Linked DNA regions of Homo sapiens. The protein of the gene in region 7 purifies or fractionates together with the protein of the main gene of each other region. This does not show direct contact. Each region holds a gene or a part of one and is shown on either strand. Other genes may lie near its edges. The genes, in order: POGLUT1, PLXNA3, CNTNAP3, NXPE3, SEMA6A, CHST12 and EDDM3B.

Region 1 (4,051 bases), on a different chromosome or scaffold from region 7:
TGGCCAATTTAAGAAGGAAAAATATTAAAGGTATGCAAAGGGTGAGGAAGAGCTGCTGTTCTATGTATAGTTCCATTAAATTTATTAAGAGGCTTTGTCTTTTTTTTTTTTTTTGGCTTTAGAGAGGCATTAAGAAGTAGGGCATGAAGGCACAAAAAGGGAACCTGAAATCCAATTGCAATAATTACTCATGCAATTGGCCTCTTTCTATGTGGCATTATAGAAACCTCCTGAGTAACACAGTTTATGGTTTTACAAAAGAGAACTCCTACATCATTGCATGGCATGGCTACCGCTTCCTTAGACCATTCAGAGAATGATCCCCAAGTATTTTTCATAAACCCCATAGGGTTTCCTACATTAAAATAAAGTGACAGAGATCACGCCTTGAATAATTTCACAATTCCAGCAATGAGTTGTACTACTTCCAAATGACGAATTTTCTGCTCCAAATAATGGGACAAAGGGCATCATCACATGGACACAGTCAATTTCACAGTGATGGACTCACACAGGTGGATGATCTGAGGCACAAGCTGTGATTGGTCTTAAGAAAATGAAAGGTAGAGTTGGGTTCAAAATCCACATCTCACGATTTCTGGTCCTTATTCATCCAAAAAGTTGAACTGCTTCATATCAGTGTATTAGACACATTTTAAATCTTTCTCAAGAGTTGCTCTGGGTGCAGCATGATAAGGAAAACCAGGTATTTGGCTTGATAGCAGATATTCAAGGTATAGGTGCCAAGCTTATGGTAAGCTTCTCACCGTAGGATATCTGAGATCTGTTGCCACAAAGAGGACTATGGTCCTATGATGACTACTATAGTTCAGTTTTCAACATTTTGGGAATAATTTGATCATAACCTTTCCTTCTCGTTACATTATAAGACAGGAATTTAGAGTATTCACTCAAGAGGTTCTCCCAGTAACAGGTGATGTCATCCATCTGCAAATGGTTCCTAATAAACTGGCTTCCCCTAGAGACAAGATTTAACAAGAAAATGTTAAAGCACAGAATTTAATGATAATAGCAGTCTGCATTTGAGTGCTCACCTTGTGCCAAGCATTATTCAGCATTTTATATAAATTAATTCATTTGAGCCTCAAGAACCAACCCTATGGCAATCATATCCACATACATGCATGTAGCAATACAACTTAACAATCTTTTTCCTTTATTTATTTATTTATTTATTTATTTTTTGAGACGGAGTTTCGCTCTTGTTGCTCATGCTGGAGCGCAATGGTGCGATCTTGGCTCACTGCAACCTCCGCCTCCCGGGTTCAAGTGATTCTCCTGCCTCAGCCTCCCGAGTAGCTGGGATTACAGGCACGCACCACCACACCCGGCTAATTTTTTTGTATTTCTAGTAGAGATGGGGTTTCACCATGGCTAGGCTGGTCTTGAACTTCTGACCTCAGGTGATCCGCCCACCTCGGCCTTCCAGAGTGCTGGGATTACAGGCGTTAGCCACCACGCCCGGCCCATCTTTTTCCTTTAAAACAAGCATATGTAGACATGTGTGTATGTTTTCCCCCAGGACAGGTTTAGTTCTGAATTATCTCCATATAATGAGGATAAAATACAGATGTCACCATGATAACAATATTCAGATAACTTTGGCTAGGGCATAATGGGGATGACAAAAAGTAAAGTGGAAAAGGGAAAATGAACAGAACTCACCTTTCAGCAATCTCTTGAGCTACATCATCATTTGCTTTTACAAATTGTAACAGCTCTCTAAAATGAAAAGAATTTTAGACTGTGAAATATAGACCAACTTCATTGGCACTAAGTCAGAAAGACGATATAGATTGAGGTCTATGGATAATTTTAGGTATGTGGATGGTGGATTATTTCCTTCAAGCAAAGATATCAGGGTTCTCTCAAGAACAAAATAATAACAAAAAAAAACCCCCACACACTGATTAAAGATACCCTATTGTAGATTTGGGACATATTTGAGAAAATACAGAAGTTACCTTATATATTTACATATATTTTGTATATTTATATTATATATTATATTAGATATTTATATTATTTTACATATTTATATATAAATATATTTATATATAGAAAAAAAATATATATACACAGATATCACCATGATAACAATATTCAGATAACTCTGGCCCTTCTCTATACTTCTTCCTAGCTCCTCCTGTCATGAAAGGAAATTTGCTGAAGCTTCACTTGAGTCAATTCTCATGCTGTATCTGAAAATCCTTTTGACAATATAATAAGATTGAATATCCCTATCTTTAGTCTTGGAGAGATTAGAGCTTTTTAACTTCATTTTGTCTGAACGTTTCATTTGAAACCAGTATTAAAGCGCTTTTTCAAATTAAATTCCACTTATAGCCTACTTGGATAATAATGCAATACTATATATGCAAACCAAGAGGAAAAAAAGCTTTCAATGGAAAAAAATCGTAGGACTAAATGTCTTACATGACTGGTTTTAAGGCATTAAGGCATTTTTAAAAGCAGATTGGAAGGGTCTTTAGAAACTCTGCATTGGGGGATAACTGCTTACTGGACATTGGAGAGATCTGTTTTGACTGGGATATAGTGAACCCATGGCTTCAGCTGTGGATAGAAGAATTCTAGCCACTCATCACCAACATGGAAAACAAGTGAGCCACACAGGAAGAGGTGTTTAAACCGGAAACTTGCAGCTACGCCTCGAAAATTAAACAGATACCTGGGGAAAAAAGAACAAAATACATTTGATACTATATGCCTGCTGCCACAAATATGACCTTTTATGCTTATTCTCCCCTCCCCTTCTTTCCTTTTATGATTCCTCTCCATTCTCTTTCCACTTTGAGTTTTCAAGGACACATTAATATGTTCCTAAGTGGTTTCTATCAGCCACTTTACCAGGGCTAGGACTACAGGTTGTTCTGGGAATGGCAGGGTGAGGAAAAATAGGGGATATTTTCTCCAGACAGCACTAGATAGGGTCAGGAGCTGGGTGCCGGGTAGAGTGTATACAGGGCTCAGAAGGAAATGACAGCTTGTAGATTTGGAACATATCTGAGAAAATAAATGTTCAATGGTAAACATAAAATAAAACGAGTGAAAAAAATTTCACAAGCTTTTCTAGGCCTAATGTCTCTAACTAGTCATGGCCTCCCAAAGCCTTGTTTTTCCTCTAGTGTACCCCATCTGGTCGAAGGTCTCCACTGCTTCCTGGACATCACCCTCTTCTCTTAAAGTATAGAGCAGCGGTCCCCAACCTCTTTGGCACCAGGGACCAGTTTCATGGGAGACAATTTTTCCATGGATGGGTAGTGTGGGGGAGATGGTTTTGGATGAAACTGTTCCACCTCAGATCATCAGGCATTAGTTAGATTCTCATAAGGAGCACGCAACCTTGATCCCTTGCATACACAGTTCACAATACAGTTTGTGCTCCTATGAGAATCTAATGCCAAGGCTGATCTGACAGAAGGCAGAGCTCAGGCGGTAATGCTCGCTTCCCCACTGCTCACCTCCTGCCATGCAGCCTGGTTCCTAATAGACCAGTACCATGGCAGGGGGTTGGGGACCCCTGGTGTAGAGAGGAGAATGAGGAAAACCTAATCAATTTTCAGAGATTGCCCACAGGGGAAAAAAAAAAAACAAAAAAAGCTGTCTTCTTCTCAGCATTTCTTATGCACGCACCTGTCGCCAACCAGAGTTGCTTTCACCATATAGCTCCTACTCTGCGTGTCATTAGCACTCCTAACTCTGAGCCACCCCCACCACCACTGCCCTCCTCTAGACCTGGTTTTACCTGTTCATCTAATTCTTAGTCCCAGAATTTTATTTTATTTCTCTTAGAGACAGGGTCTCACTATGTAGCCCAGGCTGGTCTTGAACTCTTGGGCTCAAAGGATCCTCCTACCTCAGCCTCCCGAGTAGCTAAGACTACAGGAGCATGCCAGCACACCAGGATAATAATTCTAATATTTATTAACTGAGAAATATTTATTCTAACTTCAATGATTGGGTGGGTGGGGCATATGGAGAGGTAATTCCATTACTGTGATTACTAGCT
Region 2 (4,051 bases), on a different chromosome or scaffold from region 7:
TACAGGCAGGAAGCCCGGGGGCTGGCTGGGCAGTGAGGGCAGGGGTTCTAGTTTTTGTGATGTCGCCTGAGTGACATACTCAGGGTCCCAACAGGTATTATCGAGACATTGCAAAGATGGCATCCATCAGCGACCAGGACATGGATGCCTACCTGGTGGAGCAGTCCCGCCTCCACGCCAGCGACTTCAGCGTCCTGAGTGCGCTCAACGAGCTGTATTTCTATGTCACCAAGTACCGCCAGGAGGTGTGTGTCATCCCCACAGACTCCCAGTTACTTGGTCCTGAAGGTGCAGCCAGTGACAAAGGCAGGAGGGTTGGTGGGGGTTGGGGATTGTTCACGGTCTCTCCCCTGACCAGGGCCTGGGGCCGGCACAGGTGATGCTCTCTGGGATCACAGGTAGATGCTGGAATTTGAGGGACCCAGGAGATAAGCCACTGGCTGGGTACAAAGTGGCCACTGGGCAAAAGTTAAAGGGCCTGAGCACTGGAAGGGATGGGTCAGGCTTTGTGATGAGAAATAGCCAGAGGCAGGAGGACATAGAGGTGTGGACTTTAGGATGGAGTCTGGGCTGGACACATTTGCAAGCCTGTGGATGGCATTTAAAGCCCTGAGCCTGGATGAGCTCACAGGGAAGCCACAAGTGGGTGTGGAGGGAGAAGCGGCCCAAACACTGAGCCCAGGGCCCCAGGACACAAAGAGGGGAGGGGAGGGGAGGTGCAGCAGCCAGCGGGGAGGATGCCTGAGAGCGCCTGGTGGGGTCTGGCAACCTGAGCCAGTGAGGACCCCTCACAGGTCAGGGAGTGGCAGTGGCCGGCTCCATCTTCCAGTGCTGCTGCTGGTGAAGGATGGTGACCTGCAGAACACTCACTGGGTCTGGCGAGGGTCACGGGGTCCTGGCGCGAGGGAGGCTTGGGCTAGGAGGTAATGGGAGGGGGAATCCAGCACGGCGAGTCCAGAGTCCAGGTCACTCTAGGGACAGGCCGCACCCTAGCTGTGGAGAGGAGGAGGAGAAAGTGCTGTCGTCGGAGGGGCATTTGGGGCTGGGGAGAGCTGGTGGGTTTGTACAGGGGCTGCGGGGGAGGACGGAGGGATGAGGCGTGTGGGAGGGAGGAGCCCAGCTGGGAAGTGGGGACTTTGCATGGCAGGAGCTGCGCCCCCTACAGAGCCCAGCTCCAGGGGACTCCTCTCCCCCAGATTCTCACGGCTCTGGACCGAGATGCCTCTTGTCGGAAGCATAAGTTGCGGCAGAAACTGGAACAGATCATCAGCCTCGTGTCCAGCGACAGCTAAGGTGGTGGAATCGGTGAGGAGGGGGCTTCTCAGTCCTGTGCCGTCCTCCCATCCAGGGGAGTGGCTGGCTCAAGCCTGGGTCCCCGGGCTGAGCCCTGGATTGGGTATCGTGGGGCAGGTCACCCTGGCCACGATGCCCCCGGCACACCCAGGCCCCCTTCATTAGTGCCTTGCTTTGGGCCCTGCAGGGGGAGGGGTGACAGGGCGAGCCCCCACCCCAGCAGCAGCAATACCCCCACCCTCCTGCCCTGTGCCCAGGTGTTGGGACAGTCCCACCCTCCCTGCTATTTATATCCCTCTGCCTATTTATTGAATCGAACTTCGCCTCTGTCTCCATCTGTAAATATGTGTCCCCCCACCGGATGTCGCCACCCTCACTCACCTGCCTCTTCTTGAGCTGTCCTGGGCCCTGCCACCCGTCTGGGCTCCTTTGTGTAGCATTATCAGCCTCGGTCTGGCCTCTGGCACCTCACCCTTGCCATGGCTGACCCCACCCATTCCAAGGCGGGGTCACGGTACCAGCAGCACTTGGGGTGAGGCCTCCAAAGCTTCCTCAGAATTGTGGCTGTGCCACGCTGGACCACAGGGTCCCCCTCAAGCATCTCGGGGCCCTATTCTCTCTGAGCACCTGGAGGGCTGGACTCAGGCTTGTGCCAGGGCCTGACTTGGGCCTGGGGGCCCTAGAACGCTCCTCCTCCTGAGCCTACTGCCAAACGTCCTCAGTGTTGTCTGCACCTGCTCCGACTCCTTCAGCCGCCCCATTCAGCGCCCGCTCCGTCCAGTGCCCGCCCTGTGGGGCCAAGGCGGCCGTGCCTTACTACTCTGTGTCTTCTGCCTCCTCTGAGGAATCTGGCCCTGTCTGACAGTCCCAGACCCCCCGTTCTCTCCTCTTTAGTTGCATGAGTTTTTCTTTGTTCATGGAATGTTTTTTCCTGATTAAATGTTGGGGAAATGCCATCCATGTGGGGCTCTGTCCTTGGGGCAGGTCAGTAGACCTGTGGATGCTGCATGAGCTGGAGCCCCATTGTGGGAGAAAGGACCACTCCTTGCAGGGTCCCAGAGGGTTTGGGGAGGTTCAGGGCCATACCCGACCCATCAGCAAACCCCGGTGGCTCTACCTTCAAGACAGATTCAAGGTAGATAGATTCTCCTCCCTTCCACCACCCCCACCCAGCTCTCCTGTGCCATCGTCTATCTCTGCCTGGATGCCAGTCTCCCTGCTTCTGCCCTGGCTCTCTTCAGCCTGTTCTCAGCGTGGGAGGCAGAGAGATCCTGTTATGATATAAGGTGGATCATGTTGCCTCACTGTTTAGAACCCTCCGGCGGTTTCAGCTGCAGCCAGCTCCTTCAAAACCTGACAATTGCATACTGTCGAGGTTGTGGCACCCATCATGGTGCACCTACCAAAGTCTTACTCCCAGGCCTGTTAAGTAATGCAGGTGGGGAGAAGGTGACATGCAATTTATTTATTTATTTATTTTGAGACAGAGTGTAGCTGTGTTGCCCAGGCTGGAGTGCAGTGGCAAGATCACAGCTCAGTGCAGTCTCAAACTCCTGGGCTCAAGTGATCCTCCCACCTCAGCCTCCTGAATAGCTGGGTGTATTAGTGCACTCTACTATGCCAGGCTTTTTTTTTTTTTTTTTTTGAGATAGGTTGCCGCTATGTTGTTCAGGCTGGTCTTGAATTCCTGGTCTCAAGTGATCCTCACCCCTCAGCCTCCCAAAGTATTGGGATTACAGGCATGAGCCACTGTGCCCGGCCAGGTGAGATGGAATCTTATTTTTACTTTTTATGTTTTTTTTTTTTTCTTTGACGGAGTGTCGCTCTGTCGCCCAGGCTGGAGTGCAGTGGCATGATCTCGGCTCACTGCAAGCTCCGCCTCCCAGGTTCACGCCATTCTCCTGCCTCAGCCTCCCGAATAGCTGGAACTACAGGTGCCCACCACCACGCCCGGCTAATTTTTTGTATTTTTAGTAGAGACGGGGTTTTACTGTGTTAGCCAGGATGGTCTCGATCTCCTGACCTCGTGATCCACCTGCCTCAGCCTCCCAAAGTGCTGGGATTACAGGCGTGAGCCACCATGCCTGACCTTTTTTTTTTTTTTTTTTTTTTTTTTTTTTGGAGACGGGATCTTGCCCTGTTGCCCACGCTGGAGTGCAGTGGCAAAATCAACTCACTGCAGCCTTGATGTCCTGGGCTCAAGTGATCTTCCTGCCTCAGCCTTCTGAGTAGCTAGGATTACAAGTGCTTGCCACCATACCCAGCTGTTTTTTGTTTTTTTTTTTTTTCTTTAGTAGAGATGGAGTCTTGCTGGTTTTGAACCTCCTGGGCTCAAGTGATCCTCCTGTTTTGGCCTCCCAAAATTCTGGGATTACAGTTGTGAGCCACTGTGCCCAGCCAAGTGAGATGCAATTTTTTTTTTTTTTTTTTTTGAGACAGAGTTTCACTCTTGTTGCCCAGGCTGGAGTGCAATGGTATGATCTTGGCTCACCGCAACCTCCGCCTCCCGGGTTCAAGTGATTCTCCTGCCTCAGCCTCCTGAGTAGCTGAGATTACAGGCATGTGCCACCACGCCCAGCTAATTTTGTATTTTTAGTAGACACAGGGTTTCTCCATGTTGGTCAGGCTGGTCTCGAGCTCCCGACCTCAGGTGATCCGCCCGCCTCAGCCTCCCAAAGTGCTGGGATTACAGGCATGAGCCACTGTTCCTGGCCTTTCTTCTTTTTTTGTTTTTGTTTTTTTTTGAGATGCAATTTTA
Region 3 (4,568 bases), on a different chromosome or scaffold from region 7:
CACTGCACCCGGCCAAGTTCACATTTTTAAAGACTCCATCTGATGCCTGACAAATTGGTATAATAATAGATTGACATTTGTTGTTTTACTCTAGGTCCAATTTAGAAAATGATTTCCATTTTCTCTCTTTCTGTCTCACTGAAGGCAACTGATCTGTCAATCAAAACTTTAGATTTATAATTTTTTCTGTAATAAAAGACGTGCTATTTACAGAGTTCTTGTGCAAAAGTAGTTTAAGTGAACCCAATTAATAATTCAAGAATGACTTTGTAAGATTCTTCATCTATTACATTTGAATTCATTTTACATTTTACATCTATTACATTTGAATTCATTTTAATGAAAAAGCCTTTCAAAGTTGTCTTTCTAAAGGGAAGATTAATACACTATTTCTTAGAGATACCATCTAAAAAAGTATCTTTCTTTCTTTTTTCTTTTTTGGAAACTCGCGGTGGTGGTAATGTGAGTGAGTTTGTCAATCTTTGCCCCTACTGTGAATTTGAGAAGCAGAGGAAGAGAAAAAGAGAAAGACCCCCCCCCCCGCCCCCTGCCTCCGCCCCTCCCTCTAGCACACAGTAGGCGCGCAAGGAGTGCAGTGTTAGCTGCTGCTGGACTGAGCTCCTCATCCTACACTTGCAGGGGTTGCTCTTTTGGACAGAAAGCTGGAATAAAACGTAAATTTTAGACTTCCACCAAGGCCAGGACTAGGGTGAAGGGACTAACGCACTAGTCTCAGGAGCAACTGTTAAGTAACGCTAATCCTGAATGAATGAAATAGTTTTAAAATTGAATGTAATCGCAAAGAAAAAAAAACCCATGATAGACAAAATATTAAAACTTTAAATAAAGGCTTGCACTCGCACAACCCAGGCTCACCGGCCTCTCCCTGCTCCTGGCCCGGTTTCCCAGCTTGGTTCTCTACAAGTCAGAATTCCTAGCAAAATCAAAGTGTGCGCGCGTCTGCCCAAGTACACGCCGCAGAGTTATTTCTGCCCCATCTTCCCTATTTGAACTCAAACAGGACAGCATTTTCCTGGGTGCAGCCCCTGCGTTGGGTGAACAGCGCAGTGATAAAGCCTGGCGTTCTCCACCTGCAGGCGGAGGCTGACGGCGCGGTCTTTGGCGCGAGTCCGTGCACCGCGGCCGCCCCGCCCCGGTGGGAGAGAGGGACGGAGGAAGCTGCCGGTATAACGGGAGGAGAGCGCCAGGCGGAGCTGGGGCGTCCCTCCCGCTCGCTTCTTGACTCGCGTTGCTGCCGGCCGCCTCCCGCGCCTAGTGTCCGGGACGCGCCTGAACCTGCCGCCTCCGTGCCTGGGGTGGCGCCGCGCGGCCCCGAGCGCTCCAGAAAGCTGCGGCGCGAGTCCGCGGGGCCGACCTCGGAGACGCAGCTGGGGCCGGGCGCGGCTTGGCGGGAGGGTCTGCAGCGCCGAGGGAGGCTGCTGGTGCGTGAGGAAGAGAGCTAGAGACTGGACAGGGGAGGCAGAGCAGCGTCAGAGCCGCGCAGGGGACGGGAGTGAGAGCAGGAGCGACGCAGAGCGGCCGTCGCCGTGCCCGGGTCTCAGGGCGCCTGGCTGAAGTGAGCATGGCTTCAGTGGCCTGGGCCGTCCTCAAGGTGCTGCTGCTTCTCCCCACTCAGACTTGGAGCCCCGTGGGAGCAGGAAATCCACGTAAGTACAGCAAATGGTTTAAAACTTGCGCTAGGCTGTCTGGAAAACTTTGTTTTTTTTTTTTTATTATCGGTAATATTTGGAAGTGGAATTGCAGAACATGCTCCTGAACATGAAGAACCTTAAAAAAAATTTGGAATTGCAACCCGAAAAAGACGATTTTGTTTACAATAGACTTTCCTCTTGTGGGGGAGTCTAAGATATACCATGCATGTTTTGACTTTTTAATCGATGTACTTGAATATTCATTGAGAAAGTGGACGTTTCTGTAAAACCTGAAAAGCATCTTAATAAGAGATTAGCGTGCAAATGCTGTCATTTATTCCTTTTTAGGATTGTAATATTTTGTAGGAATTAAGTCTAACAGGGAAAAAACTGGCAGACATTACATCATACTGCATCAACTTAGATGTTAGCAGCTTACAGTTTTGCCGACCTTGGCAGCTTCAGAGTTAAAATGCTAATTAACTTCCATGCAGTATAGGGACAGAGCGCCTGTAGGTGAAACTAAATTAATAACCTGTCCTAACTACTAAGGGAATAACACTTGAACACCCCTGTCAGGGGCTTCGTTTCTCATAGTAGAAAGTTCTTGCTTAAAGACAAAACTCAGCCAGTCATTTAGGTGATCTTGAAAATGATTCCTCTCTGGATGCTAATATTTTACATTATTTAATTTGCCATCAGGTTCCCTGTTTTTTATTTTCCTTAATTTGGTAAACACCTAGGAAGCCTTTATTTCTAGAATGGGCTATGATTCTAATGTAATGATGATATTCCAGACAGATGAGCAAAACATAATGTACCCATATTTTATCACACATAAAAATGTTTACACAACATTGCACATTTTTTTTTTGGCTTGGAGTAAATCTCTAGCAGAGAGTTGTCTTTCTTTCTTGATTAATCAAACCATGAGATTAGAATTTTTAAAATGTCTTCCTCTTCCTTCTCAAATCACTTTTATTTTTCTTTCAGTGGCATCTCCCCGCTGTCAGCCTCAGCCCTCTCCTACCAAAATCTCTTTCGAAATAAGTTCCAATAAACGCCAGTGGCCATGTTTGGAAATTTAGATTATTGCAGGATAACCAAGGGTAGCTTTCAGCAGTTCTCCTAAGCTGTCATGAAAAGTTTGCCGTAGCTCAGTGCTGTTCTGCCCGCGGGCTCAAGGGTGGGTTGGTTCTTCACACACAGGGCACGCACATGGGTTCATGAACTCACTGTGCATCATGATTCAGTTGCGCCTCAGTTAATCCTACACTTGGTGTGCCCTTCCAAAAAACAAGCTCCGGATTCCTTTGGTCAGATGCTGTACCGTGTTTCAGATTCAACTTTAATCTGCTTTTGTGAGAAGGCTTTGTGAATAAAACGTTGTTACTTAAATCAAAATCCTTGGGTCTTGTAATGGAAACTGCCGTTTGGCTTAAACAAACATATAAATGAGCTACTTATAGAAAGGCATGCTAGAGTAATTGACCAATCAACTGGCAAAATACAACAACAAAAAAAGTCACTAGAGGTCACTCTTACTATTGAATAAACAGGGCTTCAAAAAGACCTTCCTGGAGAAAAGCAAAGCAATGAAATCTGAGTGAGACCCTGCCACCACCTTTCCTGTTTTTGTTGCATAGTTGTGATTACTTTTTATTCTCAGGATTAGTTGTATTGGTAGTTATTTTGCTTGGAATCCAGTGGAAGGATTACAAAGCCCATAGAAATTAAGCTCTTCTCGTTTATAGTGAACATTCTTTTTGGAGGAGGGGAGGGCAGGGACAGATATTCCAAATGGACTCAGCACCAGACGGGACTCTCGCGAGTTGCTGAGTGACACGTGAAATTTCAATACTACTACTGTGGGTGTTTTCAGTCTTCTTTCGTTGATGAAACTTAGTATCCTCATATCTAATAAATTTTACTAATTTTAAATTACCTTTTAGATCAAGTAATTCTTCCAGATAAAACTATGTAACTGTAATAATTATACCACCTTCAATACCAAGAAGAAAGTCAATAAGGACATCTAAAAGTTTCCTTCTCATGTAGACACCATGAGTTGCTCACGTTATTCACAGCTGGTTTTCGAGAAGCACATTGGCCACCCACGAAGGCAACCTGTTGATGATGGCATGAAATGGCTCTTCATGGGAAGAGCTCTATAGGCCGGGCACAGTGGCTCGCGTCTGTAATCCCAGCACTTTGGGAGGCCGAGGTGGGTGGATCACCTGAGGTCAGGAGTTGGAGACCAGCTTGGCCACCATGGTGAAACCCTGTCTCTACTAAAAATACAAAAATTAGCCGGGCGTGGTGGCAGGCATCTGTAATCCCAGCTTCTCGGGAGGCTGAGGCAGGAGAATCGCTTGAACCTGGGAGATGGAGGTTGCAGTGAGCCGAGATCCCACCATAGCACTCCAGCCTGGGCAACAAGAGGAAAACACAAAACTCTGTCTCAAAAAAAAAAAGCTTTCTAAACATTTGGCATTTTGGGGATTATGTGCAGTTTATCTGAATGTTATTTGACCCGACAAATACATGGGAAAGCTTTGTTAGGAAGATTCTGCATGAAGGGAAATATTTTCCTAACTTCAGTGCCCATAGACTTGCAGTGAGTGAAAGGTCACTTACTGCTCTCATTGAGTCCCTGAAAACAGCAGGAAGCATCAAGAGAAAGATTGAACGCTGGGCACTGATCCCAGGGATACACAAACAAATGGCTGGGCAGATTTTGCAGAAATTCCTGTAACTGGTAAAATGCTGAGTAATAGCCTTTGATGTAACTTTTCAGTGGGTTAATTTATTCATTACTTAGCCTAAAACACTTTTAATTTTAATTGCCTCAATTTTTTCCCCTAAATGGTTATGTTTTGCAAGTTCGCCAGCCAGCCTGGGGAAAGAAGGGTAAGC
Region 4 (4,051 bases), on a different chromosome or scaffold from region 7:
TCTCTCCCTCAGCCTTCCGAGTAGTTGGGATTACAGGCGCCTGCCACCACACTCAGCTAATTTTTGTATTTTTAGTAGAGATGGGGTTTCAGCATGTTGGCCAGGCTGGTCTTGAACTCCTGACCTTGTGATCCATCTGCCTCGGCCTCCCAAAGTGCTGGGATTACAGGTGTGAGCCACCGCATCTGGCCTACTTCATTCTTTTATATTTGATTTCCACTAGTTATAATATTACTTTTGCATCATTAGGTGCATTCTTTATGGATTGTATCCTTCAAGGAATTGGTCCATTTCATCTGGGTTATCAAATTTATGGGCATAGAATTGTTCATAATATTCCTTTATTCCTTTAATGTCCATGGGATCTGTAGTGATGGCTTCTCTTTCATTTCTGATATTAATAATTTGTGTCCTCCCTCTTTTTTTCTTAGCCTGGGTAGAGGGCTTATCAATTTTATCAATCTTTTAAAAAACCAGCTTTGGGTTTCATTGATTTTTCTTTATTGATTTCCTGTTTTCAAGTTCATTGATTTCTGCTATCATGTTTATTATTTTTCTTCTGCTTATTTTGGATATTGTTTGCTCTTCTTTTTCTAGTTTGCTAAGATGTAAGGTTAAATTACTGATTTTAGGTTGTTTTTCTTTCCTAAAATATGTATAGTACTATGAATTTCCCTCTAAGCACTTCTCTTGCTTCATTCTATAGTGTTTAATGAATTATATTTTCACCTTCACCTAGTTAACATATTTTTAAATTTCTCATGAGATTTTGTATGTTACCCATTTGTATACCATTTTGGGATTTTTCCAGCTCTCTTTCTATTATTGATTTCTAGTTTAATTTCATTATGGCTTAAGAGAAGACACTGTATGATTTTTATTTTAAAAAATTTTTAAGGTGTATTTTATGGCCCAAAATGTGGTCCGTTTTGGTGAATGTTCCATGTGAGCTTGATATGAAGTAGTTTACAGATGTCAACTATATCCAGTTTATTGATGGTGCTGTTGAATTCAACTATGTCCTTACCGATTTTCTGCCTGCTGGATCTGTGTATTTCTGATAGAGGATTGTTGAAGTTTCAGACTATAATGTAGATTCATCTATTTCTCCATTAGTTTTTGCCTCACATGTTTTGATACTCATTGGTTAGGTACATACATGTTAAGGGTTGTTTTTTTTTTTGGAGAATTGACTCCTTTATTATTATGTAATGACCCTCTTTATCTTTGCTAACCTTCCTTGCTTTGAAATCTGCTCTGTCTGAAATTAATATAACTACTACTGGTTTCTTTGGATTAGTGTTAGCATGGTATATCTTTCTCCATTCCTTTACTTTTTTCTTGGTGTTTCTCCATCTTAGGTTGGACTGGGTGGCTCGAGTGGGCTGGAGTTGGATATTTCCCTTCTCTCAAGTTGGTTAGGCTCTGATAAAACTCCAATAGGCTAGGTTCTGATAAAGTGGTTTCTCTTGAGGGGCAGCTTTGTTAAGAACAACACAGTGCTCTGCATACTTCAAAATGGGTCCTTTTCCCTTTCTCTTCCCGGAAGCCCAAGGGGATTTTTCTTTGATATTCACTGTGAGAATCTGATTGAGCTCCTGGAGCTAAAACTCACAGAAGTGTGGGGAGCCCTCTGAATTTATGCCAAAATACAGAGACCTATTATAGTGGTAATTTCTGTTGTTTGTGTCTTCTTCTTCAGTACTTGGACCATGAGACTGTTTCAGCCACTTTCATCGACAGCAGTGGACAGTTTGTTTCCTCCCAGGTGACAGGAATTAGCCGAAATCCCTACTGTGGCTATGATCAGCAGACCCTGTCCAGCCAGGAGCGCATGGAGGAGGACTCCTTGCTGGCTGCCTTGCACCGGCAGGTTCCTGATGTGGGCCCAGTCCCCTTTGTGAAGAGCACTGACCCTTCTTCCAGCTACTTTGTCATCTTGAACTCTGCTGCCTTCTTTAAGGTGGGAAGCCAGCTTGAGGTGCTGGTTCATGTGCAGGATTTTCAAAGAAAGCCCAAGAAGTATGGTGGAGACTACCTGCAGGCCAGAATTCACTCCCTCAAGCTGCAGGCTGGGGCTGTGGGCAGGGTGGTGGATTACCAGAATGGGTTTTACAAGGTTTTCTTTACTTTGCTATGGCCAGGCAAAGTTAAAGTATCCGTATCTCTGGTCCACCCCAGTGAAGGGATCAGAGTTCTTCAGCGCTTACAGGAAGATAAACCAGACAGGGTCTATTTCAAGAGTCTCTTCCGTTCAGGAAGAATTTCTGAAACTACTGAGTGCAACGTGTGTCTTCCTGGGAATCTGCCCCTGTGTAACTTTACAGACCTCTACACTGGGGAGCCCTGGTTCTGCTTCAAACCAAAGAAGCTCCCTTGCAGCAGCAGAATTACCCATTTCAAAGGTGGATACCTGAAAGGTCTCCTAACCGCTGCAGAGAGTGCTTTCTTCCAGAGGTATGTACTGCTTTTTCTTGGGGATGATTTGAAGAGTTCTTTTCCACTGTCCTTGTCCCATTTAGGAGACTTTCTGGTATTCGGTATGTGTTTCTTACCTCTCTCTCAACTTGGCCCAATACAGAAGAGGTAGTGAATAAAAAAAAAAACATAGATTTGTATTTTTCATTAGTGTTTTAAAAATGAAGCTTAATGCTTATCTGAGTCCAAATTAAAGACCTTTTACCCTTGAATTTTTGTTCTTTACCCTCATATCTGTGTTTTCCTTTAGAACCACATAGCATGTTTACACAGTAGCTGTGTAAGTAAAATCCCTTATTCACAGAACAGATAGAAGTTATCTAAGGGTCAGATGTGGTGACTCATGCTTGTAATCCCAGCACTTTGGGAGGCTGAAACGGGAGGATCGCTTGAGCCCAGGAGTTTGAGACCAGCCTGGGCAACATAGCAAGACCCCATCTATTTTATGTAAAGAAAAAAATAATCCAAGAACAGGGCTGGTAGGGCTGGTAGTCAGGCTGGTGTTTTATCTTTGTATCTAATGAACTGAAACTTTAAAAAGTAACATAATAACAGTTTTTAAAATCATTTGAACCTACTGATTAAAAAACTATGAATATGGCAACATTGCTGGGTTGACTTAATAAGCATAGGAAGTCAGGAATACCACAGAAAACTATATTTTTTAAGCTAAATAGTTGTTGAAATTATTGCAGTATTGTGTTCAAATTTCTATTTCAAATGTAAGCTTAAAATATTTTCAGCATGATGAGAAATACATGGAATAATGTGCAGAAAGGAATATGGAACCAGTATGAATTAAAATTTGTGTTTTCTTCAACATTCCATAACATCACTAAGAAATAAAAAATTATAAAAGCTACATGGTTAAAAAGTACCATGCTGGCCAAGCGTGGTGGCTCATGACTGTAGTCCCAGCACTTTGGGAGGCTGAGGTGGGAGGAAGGCTGGAGCCCAGGAGTTTGAGGTTGCAGTGAGCTGTGATCACAATTGCACTACAGCCTGGACAACAGAGTGAGACCCTGTCTCAACAAAAAGTACAATTGTTTGAAAGAATGTATACATGTTTTTTACTTTTTAGTGAAATATATTGTTTTTAAACATTCCTTGGTAGAGAGAATTTTTTTGTTGGATAAAAGGGAGGTATTTTTGTTAAGGATATCTGGGCACCCTAAAAATTTCATACTTTATGTCCACTCATTACCGTATGGGAGAAAAGTTGCTACCATAAAGTATGTGGTTTGTAGGAGCTCCTAAAATAAAACTCTTCAGTTTTCCACCCTGAAGTCAGCTTTTGGTCATACCAGATTATGTACATATGTAGTGGGTTCATGCCATACTTTTAGAAGGCCAGCAGAGGGAGCACTACTCAATGTACAGTGTTTACTGTACTGCTGAGAAGACTAGTATTTTCTATGGCTCAGTACAAAATGAAAACAAAATTAAATTTCACAACTCCTCAAAACAAAACCAAAACAAAATTTTTCATTTTATTCGTGGGTTCAGGTTTCAGACATGCTATTTATTAGTGACTGAGCAGATTATTTTATTTCTGTGTACTTTTTTGCCTATA
Region 5 (4,051 bases), on a different chromosome or scaffold from region 7:
CAGCAGAGCTAATCTCTTCAATTTAATAAAAATTATGTGACTACACCCATCCGTAATCTTACACTACATTAACCAGGATTCAGTGTTTCTGAAGGAAGGTGCTTTCGCTATTCCTGCTTAATCAGCCACCCAGCTGAGTGACTCTAATCAAATGCAAACACAGAAGCTTTTATTTTTTAATACCAAGTGAGAATACACATCACAGTTGTCAGATCTTAAGTGCTTGATGCAGTCGCTAAAAAATAAAATCTCTAATACCTCAATTCCTGCCTCTGGAGAGTGAAAGAACATGAATACATTAGAGGCACTGCATGGGCTGAGGAAATGTAAACATTGTTCCTATTATGGAAATGATAGCAAGACAGAAAAGGTACCTTCTCTGGTCTCGGGAGACGCATTTTTCATCTACTAAATCAACTCTTTCTGGAATATGTTTCATGTATTTTACTGGCAGGTATCAGTGGCACAGAATTAGAATGAAAGGAAATAAAGATCTCTACCCCTTCCCAAGCCCACAACACGCAACCTTAAACTTCTACTGAAATGTTGTCTTTGTCACAGCCGAGACCTTGAAGCTTTCTCATGGGGGTTTTTCTGCTAAAATATTTTGATTTCTGAAGTGATGGTTTTAAAACCCAGAAACCTTAGCCTGAAAAGTACATTCTCTTTTTCTTTCCTTCCTAAGGGTCCTCCTCCCTTCAATTGTGACATCACAGTTGGTTGCTGTGGAAATGATTGTCCTGTGACAAAGGATTGTGACTTAAGTAGAAGCAGCAAATATCTCTTAAGAAATAAAGATTCTGTGATCCAACAAATACCCTTGGTAATAAAAGGCAGTCAAGGCAATTCACCATAAGGAAAGAGTGTACAAGACGGTAAGATATCAAATAATTTTCAAATGTGATACTTTTCAAATATTTCCAGATTTATCTCCATCAGCTTTTAAGGGGTAGAAACTGAGAAGCAAAAAACAGCCGGAAATTTGGCTGTAACTCACACCTTTTATGTGTGAAGCTCCCCAAACAGTGGGGTGTCCTGCATTCAAATATATTTTAGTACCTATTCACCAAGGAAATGTGCTAATGAAAATTTTCTTTCTTAAATTTGCATTTCCTTATTATGCTAAAATAGCTACTGATTTTTCTTCAATTTTGATTATGTATGGGGTTCTACCGAACACCGTTTTTAACCCCCTACATATAATTGCACAAAAATGTACACCTGTGGATAAAATGGTTTTAATTTCTCTCATTGACTTGGTGATTTCAGTGGGAGTTGAACACAGGCTAGACGGCCCCAGTAATGGGGTGGGGGTGTATTAGGTGTTTTTTTCATGGCAATGAGTATTTCATGAAACCCTTCCAGGCTACCAAATTTAGGGGGACTGGATATTCCCAATAAATGTGTATTATAATAGGAAGCTATTTACAATTGACTTTGGCATTCTACAATTTAAACTGCCCTCTCAGTTTAAAAGGAACGTGGAAAGAGTAAAGCTAGAGCAATTCATTGGTTTCACTGGGAAAACTGCAAATTTTTCACATGTATCCATTGCTTCTTAGCCTTACTTTTAGCTCCCAAATATCATTCTTCTTTCATGTCTGAAGGTCCTTGGCTATTTTAGACTCATGAAAGCTACTTATTCTTTCACTGGGAAGAACTCTTTTTTAGTGGATGATATTTGAGTTCAGGTTTTTGGTTGTTAACAAGTTAAGTAGGATCTGACCTTTCAGGAAAATGGTATCTCAGACAGATTTTTTCCCCCGTCTCATTTTGTTATATAAAGAGTGGCCTTAAAAACATTTTTGCATGTCTTCATCTATCCATGGGGAGGCAGAGGGCTTTCCTCATCTGCTTGTGTAAATTCAGAAACGTCCAAAGATGGAAACAGATCAGAGAGTAAGTTGAAAGTGCAGTTGAAGAAGATAAGGTAAACGTTATTTTTGGAAATGCCTTTCAAACTTAAAGCTTTCTGCTTATATCATGAAAAAGGCCAAAGAAGCATTCACAGAAATGATCAAGTCAACTTTGTGGAATAGCCATTGTGAAGGCTTGGAAACAGCAGACTTGTCAGTAGTGGTGATAAAAGCAGCTAGAGAAGATCTCAGTGGGCTTGGAATTGCAGGCTCCCACTTACTGGCTGGGTGACCTTTTGGCAAGTGACTTAACATCTCTGGGCCTCAGTTTTTTTATCTGTAGCATGAGGTGAACACACCTAATCTTACTGCCTTACTGGATTGTTACAAGAATCAAAGGAAATAAAAAATAGGAAAGAGCTTAAATGCTGTAGTTTGCTGGACAAATCTAAAGCTCAAAAGAAGCCACAAAGGAGAAGTGGTGGGTTAGTGGCTCACAGAGGGCTTCCAAGTGATAGTCGCAGCTGCTCCATTGGATTCCATTTGCTATTGGTCTCCCATGGGAGAGGAGTAGACCTGTGCTTCCAGGTCCAAACTTCGTGCCTTCTAAATGTAGTCAAAAAGGTGATATGAGATTTCGAAGCAATATAAGGGAATGCATACTGTTTCAGGATGCCTATAGTTACTGAATTTTGAAATAATTAAAACAACAGAAGTGGAAAATGTTGGCAATTATAGTTGGATTCTCAGTGGAGTGCAAATCCTGGGCAAGTACCACATTTTTTCGGCATTTATAACCCTTGCCATCCACAGAGCTCTTAGTTGGGTAACTCAACAAATGATGGCTGAATAAATGGGTTTTCAATACATTGTAGAGCTATTTTTAAATGAACTTCTAAACTTGGGAGGTAATCTTTAGAGTGACTATCACCCTTGCTTTTGAAGTCATGGAAATAAATTCTATCTCCAATCATATAAAAGAATTTTAATAGTAGCATCTATCAGACAAACAAAAATAAATCTATAATGGTGCTCAGTATTTGCTCAAAACAATAAGAAGAGAAACTATTTCAAAAATGAAATTAGTTCTGGGAAAAATCCAAAAGAGTCGATGACGATAAATGGGTTATTTACAACAACAGAGTGCCCCAGTGGAACTGAATAATTAGAAAAAAAAAAAATGCATCTCTGCAAAGGGCAAAGGGCAAAGGGCAACAGGCTAGAGCTGAGTATCCCTTGCTTCAGATGCTGCCTGGAAGCCCTGGGCAAGTAAAGGGCCCTTGGAGGGTGGTGTACTCCCCTCCGCAGGTATCCTCCCACTGCAGAGAGAACAATCAGAGTTGGCTTCTCTACCCTAGGGTCTTGAAATTCCTTCCTCTGCCAACCCCTGCATCCTCTTCTGCTCTTACCAATTGAAAATGGGGCATTAGTAATGAAAACAGTATTTGAAAAATCCTTTGCATTGATTCATTAACCACCAGCTATTTCTCACCAGTCATAAGGTGCTAAATGGTTAGTCTTTCCACCTTCCTATTGCAGGAAGCAAGGCACACCCTGGCTTAGAGATTTCTCTGAAATCATGTCTTAAATTGGCAGAACTGAGAAAGAATAGAATCTCCACTGTTTTTTTTTTTTTTTCCTGAGGTGAGAGTTTTCAGATGCTGGAGGGAGACCTCAGAGAGGAAATTTGAAGTTCTTTAGAGTCCAAAGCAATGAAAAGATTATGAAGGACCCTGCCCCTAGACCCTGCAACATGTGATTCAAAATAAGAACAATTGTAAACTGAAAACTAAGAGGAAGCCCAATACAATTCTGACTTTTCCTATGATGACCATGTTAATAAATTTTGAAATATCAAACACTACATTCCTTATTTTAAAAAATGTTTTCTAGTAGTCCTGCTCATGGATACTATTCCGTGCAAAGGGAACCTAGCACCAGGCTCTGAGACAATTTGCTTTAGAAATGATGTTTTCCCCTAACTTAGGGTTGGGTTGTTTCTTTATTATCACTCTCCTAGTATAACAAGGTTTTGGCTCCAAGCATCTTTGTGGCTGCCTTCAGCAAACATTTACCAAGCACTGCACTAGGTGTCGGGGAAGGACAATGATGAATGAGGCATAAACCAGCAGGGAAGAAGGCAAGTGCTTGCATACAACTCTGTCCAAAGTGTGGCTATGTCATGAGTTACATCA
Region 6 (4,051 bases), on a different chromosome or scaffold from region 7:
GAGAAGGGCGGAGGTGAGAAAGGGAAGCAGGGACAGAGACTGTTGAGTTTCTTAATAAACTTCACCTCACGGAATGATTTCACTCTTTCATGGATATGTATGTGTGGCATTGAATTGACCCAAATGGGAACAGTCTCAGATGGGCTTTCTGCTCTGATGGAATGGCGGCCCTCGCCTGCCTCTGTGCACAGGCCCTGTTAACAGGGAGGGTTTCCTTGCTCTGATTTCCTCTTGGTTATTGTCATTGTTCTCTGTATGCTGTCTCGTCGTTGTGGTCATTTATCAGAGATTCTGAGCACTTTTTTTTTTTTTCCTTTCAGGCAGAGTCTCACTCTGTCACTCAGGCTGGAGTGCAGTGATATGATCTCATTGCAGCCTCTGTTTCCTGAGTTCAAGCAATTATGATTACAGGCCTGAGCCGCCACGCCCGGCCGAGCGCTTTCTTTCGTCGTTTTCCAAGGGGGTTTTAAAACATACCGACCAGTAGAGAGAGCAGTATTATACATCATCCTTCACCTGTCCCCAAGTTTCAGAAATTAGGCAATCAGAGTTTGTCTGGTTTTTGTTAGAACATCACCTCTTTCTTGAGCAAGTACTGAGTGCCAGATGCTACTGTAAGCCTTGAGAATACCCGCTGTGAGGCAGGACGAGGACCTCCCTTTTAAGTCAGTGCAGGAAGACAGTGAGTGGATTAACTGGTGTATATGAGCTATTTGAGGCCAGGCATGGTGGCTCACGCCTGTAATCCTGACATTTTGGGAGGCTGAGGCAGGAGGATGGCTTGAGCCCAGCAGTTCAGGGATTCTGCGATTGCACCACTGCACTCCAGCCTGGGTGACACAGTGAGACACTACTCTAAAAATAATAAATAAAAGATTTGAGGTAGGGATGGGATAAATGCTGCTATGAAGAAAACCAGGGTATGGGGAGTGCAGGGTAGAGACTGGGATCTACTTTCTCAGGGTGGTTAGGGAAGGCTTGCTGAGGAGGTGAGCGTCAAGCAGAGATCTGAAGGAAGCGTGGGACTGCCCTGGGATTCCCCAGCTGAGGGATGGTGGTGCAGAGGCCCAGCAGCAGGAGCCTGCTGGGTGCGGTGGATGAACGGCAAGGAGACTGTTGAGGCTGGAGAGGGTCGCCGAGGGGGACTGTGATAGAAGAGGAGATCAGTGGAGTCCTGGTCACGGGCCATCAGAAGGACTCGAGATAGGAAGCCACTGATCCAACTTTTAATAGAATAACCGTGGCTTTGGGGTTGAAAATGGATTGTGTGGGCCTGAGAGCAGAAGCAGGGAGACTGGTTTGGAGCCTGTTGCAATAACGCAGGTGAGAGCTGATGGTGATTGGGGCAGGGTGGGGTGTAGGTAGGGCAGAGGGGACTTGACAAGTTAGAGCCTGGATAACTATTTACTTTTTTAAATTATTTATTTATTTATTTTTAAATTTTGAGATGAGATCTCACTCTGTCATCCAGGCTGGAGGGCTGGAGTACAGTGGTGTGATCATAGTTCACTGCAGCCTCAGCCTCCTGGGCTTAAGAGATCCTCCCACCTCAGCCTCCTGAGTAGCTGGGACTACAGGTGTATACTACCATACCTGGCTAATTTTTAAATTTTTGTACAGATGGCTTCTTGGTATGTTGCGCAAGCTGATCTTGAACTCCTGGTCTCAAAATATTATCCTGCCTTGGCCACCTAAAGTGTTGGGATTACAGGCATCAGCCACTGCACCTGGCTGAGCCTGGATATATTTTGCATGTAAAGCCCCAAGCAGGTTCTTAAACTGATCATAGTGAGATTTATTATCATTTTCTTCTGAAATAATTTCTTTGAGTTAACTTAACTCTTTTTTTTTTTTTTTTTTGAGACGGAGTCTCACTGTTGGCCAGGCTGGAGTGCAGTGGGGCAATCTTGACTCACTGCAACCTCCACCTCCTGGGTTCAAGCAATTGTCTCTGCCTCAGCCTCTCAAGTAGCTGGGATGATAGGTGCCAGCCACCACACCCAGCTACTTTTTGTATTTAGTAGAGACAGGGTTTTGCCATGTTGGCCAGGCTGGTCTCCTGACCTCAGGTGATCCACCCAGCTTGGCTTCCCAAAGTGCTGGGATTACAGGCGTGAGCCACTGTGCCCAGCCACGAATTGATTTAACTCTTAAGTCAGTTGAGTCAAGTGAGTTATCGTTTGGATTCTAGAGTCAAATACCTATGCAACAAATATTTGAGCCTTATGAGGAATACAGAAGGTACATGAGATATGATCCCTGTCTTCTAAGAACTTGAAACCCAGTTTGGGAATATTGGACTGGTATACGTGCGTGGATTTCCTGTCTACCTGGGAAGGGCCAACAGAGGGCTTAGAGACGGGAAGGAAGAGAACAGGGTGAGCTGATAGCCTCTGTGCTCTAGGACCGGCTCTGCAGGGAAGTTACTTTACTTCAAAGGCTAAGTTTGGGCTCAGTTTTCATTCAGGTCTCCTGGGATATAAATCAACATTCCATTCTCATCAATGTGACCGTTAATTACATATTTTTATTTGGATATACTGTCAGATATAGTTAACTGAACACAAATGAAGTAATTGTATAAGCAAATAAACCATAGTCCTGGAGGTACCGCGTGAAAATGTGTCTCACGATGGAGGTTTTAATGTAGTACCACTGTGTGTAAGTTCCAGGCAGCCCAGGACATGCAGAGAGCAAATATTGACACCAGGAACAGAAACTTTCCACATTTTTGTTGACTACAGCGATGGGAACTGCAGTGAATTATTTGCCTTATATAGTGTCTGTAAAGCTGGAAAAGAAGTAGGTAGTTTCTGGTCTTTGTGTCAGTAGCATAAATAAATAAACTTGAAACATTCTTGCGCTTCTTATTGAAGGTCATGTCACTTGATTTAGTGCTCAAGAGCTTGGTTATTTGGACACGAAGAAGCTACTTCCCTCAGCAGTAAAGGAAATAGAAATTTGACTGTCTAGTGAAACCTACCAATTCTGCCTAAACATATACTGTAGAGGCCAGCAGAGCAGAGTGGCAAGGAAGGGGGGCTCTCCAACAACAGCCTGAGTTCTGAGGCCAGCTCTAAACACTGCTAGCTATGTAGACTTGTGCAAGTCTGTAGCTACTTTTCCCAGTTTCATCCCAGTTCATGTGAGGATTAAACAAAGTAATATGTGCAAAGCCCTTAGAACATCACTTTTAACAACATGTTAGCTATTGGTATTGTTATTTTAAAATCAATTTGCAAATAGACAGTTTTTTTTTTTTTGACTTGATAACTGGCTCTTGGTAGAAAGCATGAGTAATAATAAAAATAACACATATTTGTGTAACAAATATTTGAGCCTGATGAAGACAGAGAGATAAGTAAGGCCGGGGCAGATTCTAAAGAAAGTGCTTTACTATTTTATCAACCACTTAGCTGTGTTTTCTCATTTTTGTGCTCTCGGTAGCTCTGGTTAGCAGAAAGGCCTAGTTTGTTCTTCTTTTGTAGATGGACTGAAAGTCAGACATAAAATGACTTGGCCCAGGCCACTCAGCAGAGGCCGGACTTGGTCTCAGTATCCCTTCCCTCTTCCTCCCAGTCCCTCCGTGTCTGTGCGGAACTCTGCACTGGTGTTTTCTTCTGTACTGTGGAAATTGGTGAGAGCTGGGCCATTGCATTCATATTAGAGAGAGAAGTGTTAGCCTCTGGAGATCAGCTTCATAAAACCACAAACATTTTCTTTTTAACTTTAAATCAAATGTATTGAGTATGATTTACATGCAATAAAACGTACCCATTTTAAGTATGCAGTTTGAGGAACGTGGCCAAACATATTCACCTTGTACCTGCCTCTGCAATCAAACAGTAGAGCATTTCCATCGCCCCGAGTTTCTGCGTGCTCCTCTGCAGTCTATGATTTTCATCACGATTTTGGCCTCTTTTAAATGTCATATAAATGGAACCACAGAACATGCAGTCTTTTACGTCTGGCTCCTTTTTCAGTGTGCGACCTGTGGCGTTCACCCATGAATCAGCACTTCACCCTTTTTACACTCACTTGCTGATGTACA
Region 7 (4,700 bases):
AAAGGTTATTGTTAATGAGGACTAAACTCTGATTTTTTTTATCTTGCCCAAATTCCTATCTAAGGGGTCTGGGGAGTCATGCCCTACAAATCATCAATTCTCATCAGATGAGTTTTATTTAACCCTGTATATCATGTTTTACTTTCCAACCTGACTCTGGCATAACATTACCAGACAAACAAGAAAAAGTATTTTGCCCCAAAACATGTTTCTTTGCCACATTTTGAAATTGCCCTGCAAAGCTGTTCTTTGTGGGGGAAAATTTGCATCTGTAAAGAATCTCTATTAACATAGCTAAATATTTTTCTTCCAGACCTTCCAATCCTAAAGATATTAATTAAGATCTGAAAGGGAAACATTTGTCATCTATTGTCTCTAAGGGCAGCCACTATAAGACTTCGAAAGAATTGGTCTCTACCATCTTTATTTTAACCTGAATATTCCCTTTCTATCAATCTCAGGTCTTTAGACAAAACTAGTTGTCAACCAGAAAATGTTTAAATACACCTATGGCCTGGAGGCCCTCCACTCCCCATCAGCTTTGAGTTGTCCCGCCTTGCTGGACCAAACCAATGTATTTCTTAAATGTATTTGATTGATGTTTCATGCCTCTCTAAAATGTATAAAACCAGCTGTGCTCCAACCACCTTGGGCACATGTCCTCAGGACCTCCTGAGAGCTGTGTCATAGGCCATGGTCACTCATATTTGGCTCAGAATAAATCTCTTCAAATATTTTACAGAGTTTGACTCTTTTTTTTTTCTTTTCTTTTGTTTTGAAATGGTGTTTTGCTCCTGTTGCCCAGGCTGGAGTGCAATGGCGTGATCTCGGCTCACTGCAACCTCTGCCTCCCAGGTTCAAGCGATTCACCTGCCTCGGCCTCCCAAGTAGCTGGGATTACAGGTGCCCACCACCACGCCCAGCTAATTTTTGTATTTTTAGTAGAGATGGGGTTTCACCACCTCGGCCAGGTAGGTCTTGAACTCCTGACCTCAGGTGATCCTCCCGCCTTGGCCTCCCAAAGTGCTGGGATTACAGGCGTGAGCCACCACACCCAGCTGACTCGTTTCATCGACAATAACAAACTGCCTAGTAAAACTTCAGATACTGGCTACCTAATCATAACTATCTGGCCACCAGTTTCACTAGATACTCTTTCACCTCTCAACGAAAGTCCCACAGTTCACAATGTTATAAGTGGCTTTCTTCAGAGAAGTTTCTGTGTAACATAGCATAACCCTCCAGGGACTTCCCAGAACTTTGTCAGAAATTGAGTGCAGAAGCCAGGTCTCTCGTTGTCTACTGATAGCACCAGATAACCCCTTTCTGGGGTCACCTCACTCTAGGGTCTTGCACTTCTTCTGTGCCCTGGAGTCAGCCTTTGATGTTTGTAGCCTTTGCTTGAGGCCACTGTCTGAATAAACTCAAGTGTTCCAGATGAGAAGATACAGGAACAAGTTCACATAATAAGGCTATTCCCCATCACCACCTCCACTACCAATCAGCTGGAGCCTTGCAGCTCCCCCTGCTATTCCTTTCTCCACTGCTGCAGATTTCCAGGGCCCTGAGGAAAGGAGGACTCAGACTCTGCTCTTCAGATCCACACACTGATCCCAACTACAACCAGTGACCTGAACTTGGAGTCTGAGTAGGGTAAGAAGGGCTCTGCTGAGGATGTTTGGGGGACAGCCAGGAGCACTGAAAGGAGGCTGATTGAACTTTTAGATAGCAAACAATGGAGAAGGATCCAAATCATGGAAAACAAAGGTGTGAATTCTGGTCAGCCTCAGTCCCACTGATACAGGCTTTCCCTGCCCCTCCCTTCCTTCACCCCCAGTCTTCTCAAACACAATGCATTAAAACCGCTTACATCCTGCTCTTCTATCCTCTGTAGGTCTTTATCATCAGGACAGGGTTCCACAGATAGGAAGTACCGACCCTTTGTTCTGTGTCTGATGTGGACATTTGACATCATTAGAAGTGCTCTCAAATACATGCGTCTCATTAGACACTTGCAGGTCTGTAGGGAGCTATTATTAAGTCCATCTGAGGACACCAATGCTCAGAGTTGTGAATCAGGTTAGAGATTCAGTAAGGGCGGGAACACTTCTCATGGTAAATGAGGACAGAGCACTAGTTTAAACGGTAGACTCTTTCAAAAAGATCCCCACACTCCATGCTATCACCACAGAAGCCACTGTGGGGGCTCTTTTAGTCTTGGTGCTTGATTGATTACAGGAATATTTCAAATCTGGAATTCTGGTTGGGTGTAGTGGCTCATGCCTGAGAATCCCAGCACTTTGGGAAACCGAGGTGGGTAGATTACTTGAGGCCAGGATTTTGATACTAGCCTGGCCAACATGGCGAAACATTGTCTCTACTAAAAAAAATACAAAAATTAGCTGTGTGTGGTGGCAGGCACCTATAATCTCAGCTACGTGGGAGGCTGAGACAGAGAATCTATTGAACCCTGGAGGTGAAGGTTGCAGTGAGCCAAGACTGTGCCACTGCACTCCAGCCTGGGTGACACAGTGAGACTCTGTCTCAAAAATAAATAAACAAATAAAAACCTCAAAACTGGAGTTATTTTATGATGACATTTTCAAGGAGCAGCTCTGACAAACCAAGATCATTTGTAATAGTGATAATTAGGGGAATGACCCCTGAGAAGGAATATGGGTAGTTAGTAATGAACATACGTTCCACTCAGGCTTTGGAGAAAGTGTTATAAGGAAGTCAAGATTGGAGAAGCATCATTAAGTAATTGGAGAAGCAGGCAAGAAGTAATTGCAGGCTAGGCTGTCATTTTAGCGAATCGAAGCCTTCCTACCTAGGAACCACTTCCCAAGTAGTTACTCATTTTCTACATTTCCCTAAAATCTGACAACCCTTTCCACTTCAAGGACATAAACCTTAAAATATCATTCTCTTTTGGACACATGATCTCCTGAGAGTTGGTCTGGTAAAAAGGAGCCAGCTGGAGGGTGATTGGCTCCTCAGGTTGGGTGTAAGAGAGGGATGAGAGGAGATGGTTGGAATTCTCAAAATGAACTTCATCTATTTTTTCTAATTATGTGTTTCGCTTACACAGGCTGAAGCGTGTTTTTAGTTCTTAGAAACTCTATTCTCTAATGAGAATTAGCATCTTCTCATCGGGGAACCAAATAGTAAAATTGCACCCAAGTGCCTGCCTGGTGGGGAAGGAATTTTAAGGTGGAGTTCAGCTCTCTGGGCATTGTCTGGATAATGCTTTTCTTTCTCTTCTCTGTGGACACGCAGGCGGCCCCGGTGACTGAGATGGCATCGTCTCTAAAGATCTGGGGCACACTCTTGGCCCTACTTTGCATCCTATGCACACTGCTTGTACAGAGCAAAGAAGTTTCTTGGAGAGAATTCATGAAACAGCACTACTTAAGTCCAAGTCGAGAATTCAGAGAGTACAAATGTGATGTCCTCATGAGAGAAAATGAAGCTCTGAAAGACAAGAGCTCTCACATGTTTATCTATATCTCATGGTACAAAATCGAGCATATATGCACTAGTGACAACTGGATGGATCGCTTCCGAAATGCATATGTATGGGTCCAGAATCCTCTCAAAGTACTCAAGTGTCACCAGGAGAATTCCAAAAATAGCTACACAGAGAGCAGGAGCTTCAACTACATTGAATTCCATTGTAGCATGGACGGGTATGTTGATAGCATAGAAGACCTAAAGATGGTAGAACCTATCGGCAACTAGAAAGTCTATGCACATCCTCAGGTATTGGTAGAGTATTCAGTGCTTTCTAAGTAGCAGCCCCTGCCTCCATCAATAGTCCTACCACTCCCCTCTTGCATTTATTTGTCAATGTTTTCCAAATACTTAGAGTTATGAATAGCATAATTTCTTGATACCATAACTTTGCCTGTGTTGTTTCTCTGCCTGGAATACACTTTTGTCTTCATTTACCTAATTTACTCTTATACTTTTGTCGACATTCAGCTCATATGGCATCTGTTCTTGATTAACCCAAGACTTTCCTGATATTGACTCTCTTGATACATACCCAAGCTGAACAATCTTCCCTTCCCTAAATAAATTATATGACTGCAATGTGTGTGACATTCATATATGTTATGTGCACAGAGTGAGTATAGTGTGATTGATATGGGTGTGTGTGATCTAGACTATGCATGTGATTGATGCTGTGCAAGGGATTGAAGGTGTATTTTATGGGTGCATATCTAATGTATGTAATATGTTTGTGTATATGATGAGGGTATGAATGATTGTGTGCTTAGTTCAAGACAAGTTGTGATGTAGGCATTGATTGCAGCATCAATTTGAAATAATCAAAAGTGTCAGAATCCAGTTTTAAAGAGTTGATTCAAGCAAAAGGCTAGGAGTGGCCATTCGGTAACACACAGACTCCACAGAAATGGAGTCAGTGTTCCAAAGCTGAAAATTAAGTTCTTGCTTATGTAGGAAAAAGACAAAAGAATTTAACAGGATTACAACAATTTCTATAACAGCTGGTTTAAGAGTTACAACAAATTAATTAGTTACAGTTTGTCCCCCAAGTCTTCTTTTCTTTTCTTTATAGTTTTTCATTTCCTTTCCAATTTAAAAGAGTGTATTTAACATTCCATCTTAATGTGATAGCGATGAAGTCTTTCTAAGAGGAGAGGGAAGTTACTCTATCATGAAGATCAACAGTG

What was found.
Region 1: the proteins of EDDM3B (region 7) and POGLUT1 purify together in Homo sapiens (affinity purification with mass spectrometry; one large-scale study listed by BioGRID and IntAct). This does not show direct contact.
Region 2: the proteins of EDDM3B (region 7) and PLXNA3 purify together in Homo sapiens (affinity purification with mass spectrometry; one large-scale study listed by BioGRID and IntAct). This does not show direct contact.
Region 3: the proteins of EDDM3B (region 7) and CNTNAP3 purify together in Homo sapiens (affinity purification with mass spectrometry; one large-scale study listed by BioGRID and IntAct). This does not show direct contact.
Region 4: the proteins of EDDM3B (region 7) and NXPE3 purify together in Homo sapiens (affinity purification with mass spectrometry; one large-scale study listed by BioGRID and IntAct). This does not show direct contact.
Region 5: the proteins of EDDM3B (region 7) and SEMA6A purify together in Homo sapiens (affinity purification with mass spectrometry; one large-scale study listed by BioGRID and IntAct). This does not show direct contact.
Region 6: the proteins of EDDM3B (region 7) and CHST12 purify together in Homo sapiens (affinity purification with mass spectrometry; one large-scale study listed by BioGRID and IntAct). This does not show direct contact.

What each region holds. Positions count from the first base shown.
Region 1 is NC_000003.12:119,489,210-119,493,260, reverse strand, and holds part of POGLUT1 (protein O-glucosyltransferase 1 precursor), read right to left. Parts: intron 2,711-4,051; coding exon 2,543-2,710; intron 1,744-2,542; coding exon 1,687-1,743; intron 980-1,686; coding exon 823-979; 3' UTR 1-822. UniProt on the Homo sapiens protein: Dual specificity glycosyltransferase that catalyzes the transfer of glucose and xylose from UDP-glucose and UDP-xylose, respectively, to a serine residue found in the consensus sequence of C-X-S-X-P-C.
Region 2 is NC_000023.11:154,471,394-154,475,444, forward strand, and holds part of PLXNA3 (plexin-A3 precursor), read left to right. Parts: intron 1-94; coding exon 95-245; intron 246-1,196; coding exon 1,197-1,292; 3' UTR 1,293-4,051. UniProt on the Homo sapiens protein: Coreceptor for SEMA3A and SEMA3F. Necessary for signaling by class 3 semaphorins and subsequent remodeling of the cytoskeleton. Plays a role in axon guidance in the developing nervous system.
Region 3 is NC_000009.12:39,285,079-39,289,646, reverse strand, and holds the start of CNTNAP3 (contactin-associated protein-like 3 isoform 1 precursor), read left to right. Parts: upstream 1-1,479; 5' UTR 1,480-1,582; coding exon 1,583-1,667; intron 1,668-4,568.
Region 4 is NC_000003.12:101,799,533-101,803,583, forward strand, and holds part of NXPE3 (NXPE family member 3 isoform 1 precursor), read left to right. Parts: intron 1-1,702; coding exon 1,703-2,457; intron 2,458-4,051.
Region 5 is NC_000005.10:116,448,943-116,452,993, forward strand, and holds part of SEMA6A (semaphorin-6A isoform 2 precursor), read right to left. Parts: intron 876-4,051; exon of another isoform or gene 686-875; intron 1-685. UniProt on the Homo sapiens protein: Cell surface receptor for PLXNA2 that plays an important role in cell-cell signaling. Required for normal granule cell migration in the developing cerebellum.
Region 6 is NC_000007.14:2,409,649-2,413,699, forward strand, and holds part of CHST12 (carbohydrate sulfotransferase 12), read left to right. Parts: intron 1-4,051. UniProt on the Homo sapiens protein: Catalyzes the transfer of sulfate to position 4 of the N-acetylgalactosamine (GalNAc) residue of chondroitin and desulfated dermatan sulfate.
Region 7 is NC_000014.9:20,766,854-20,771,553, forward strand, and holds EDDM3B (epididymal secretory protein E3-beta precursor), read left to right. Parts: upstream 1-1,550; 5' UTR 1,551-1,653; intron 1,654-3,279; 5' UTR 3,280-3,297; coding exon 3,298-3,741; 3' UTR 3,742-4,095; downstream 4,096-4,700. UniProt on the Homo sapiens protein: Possible function in sperm maturation.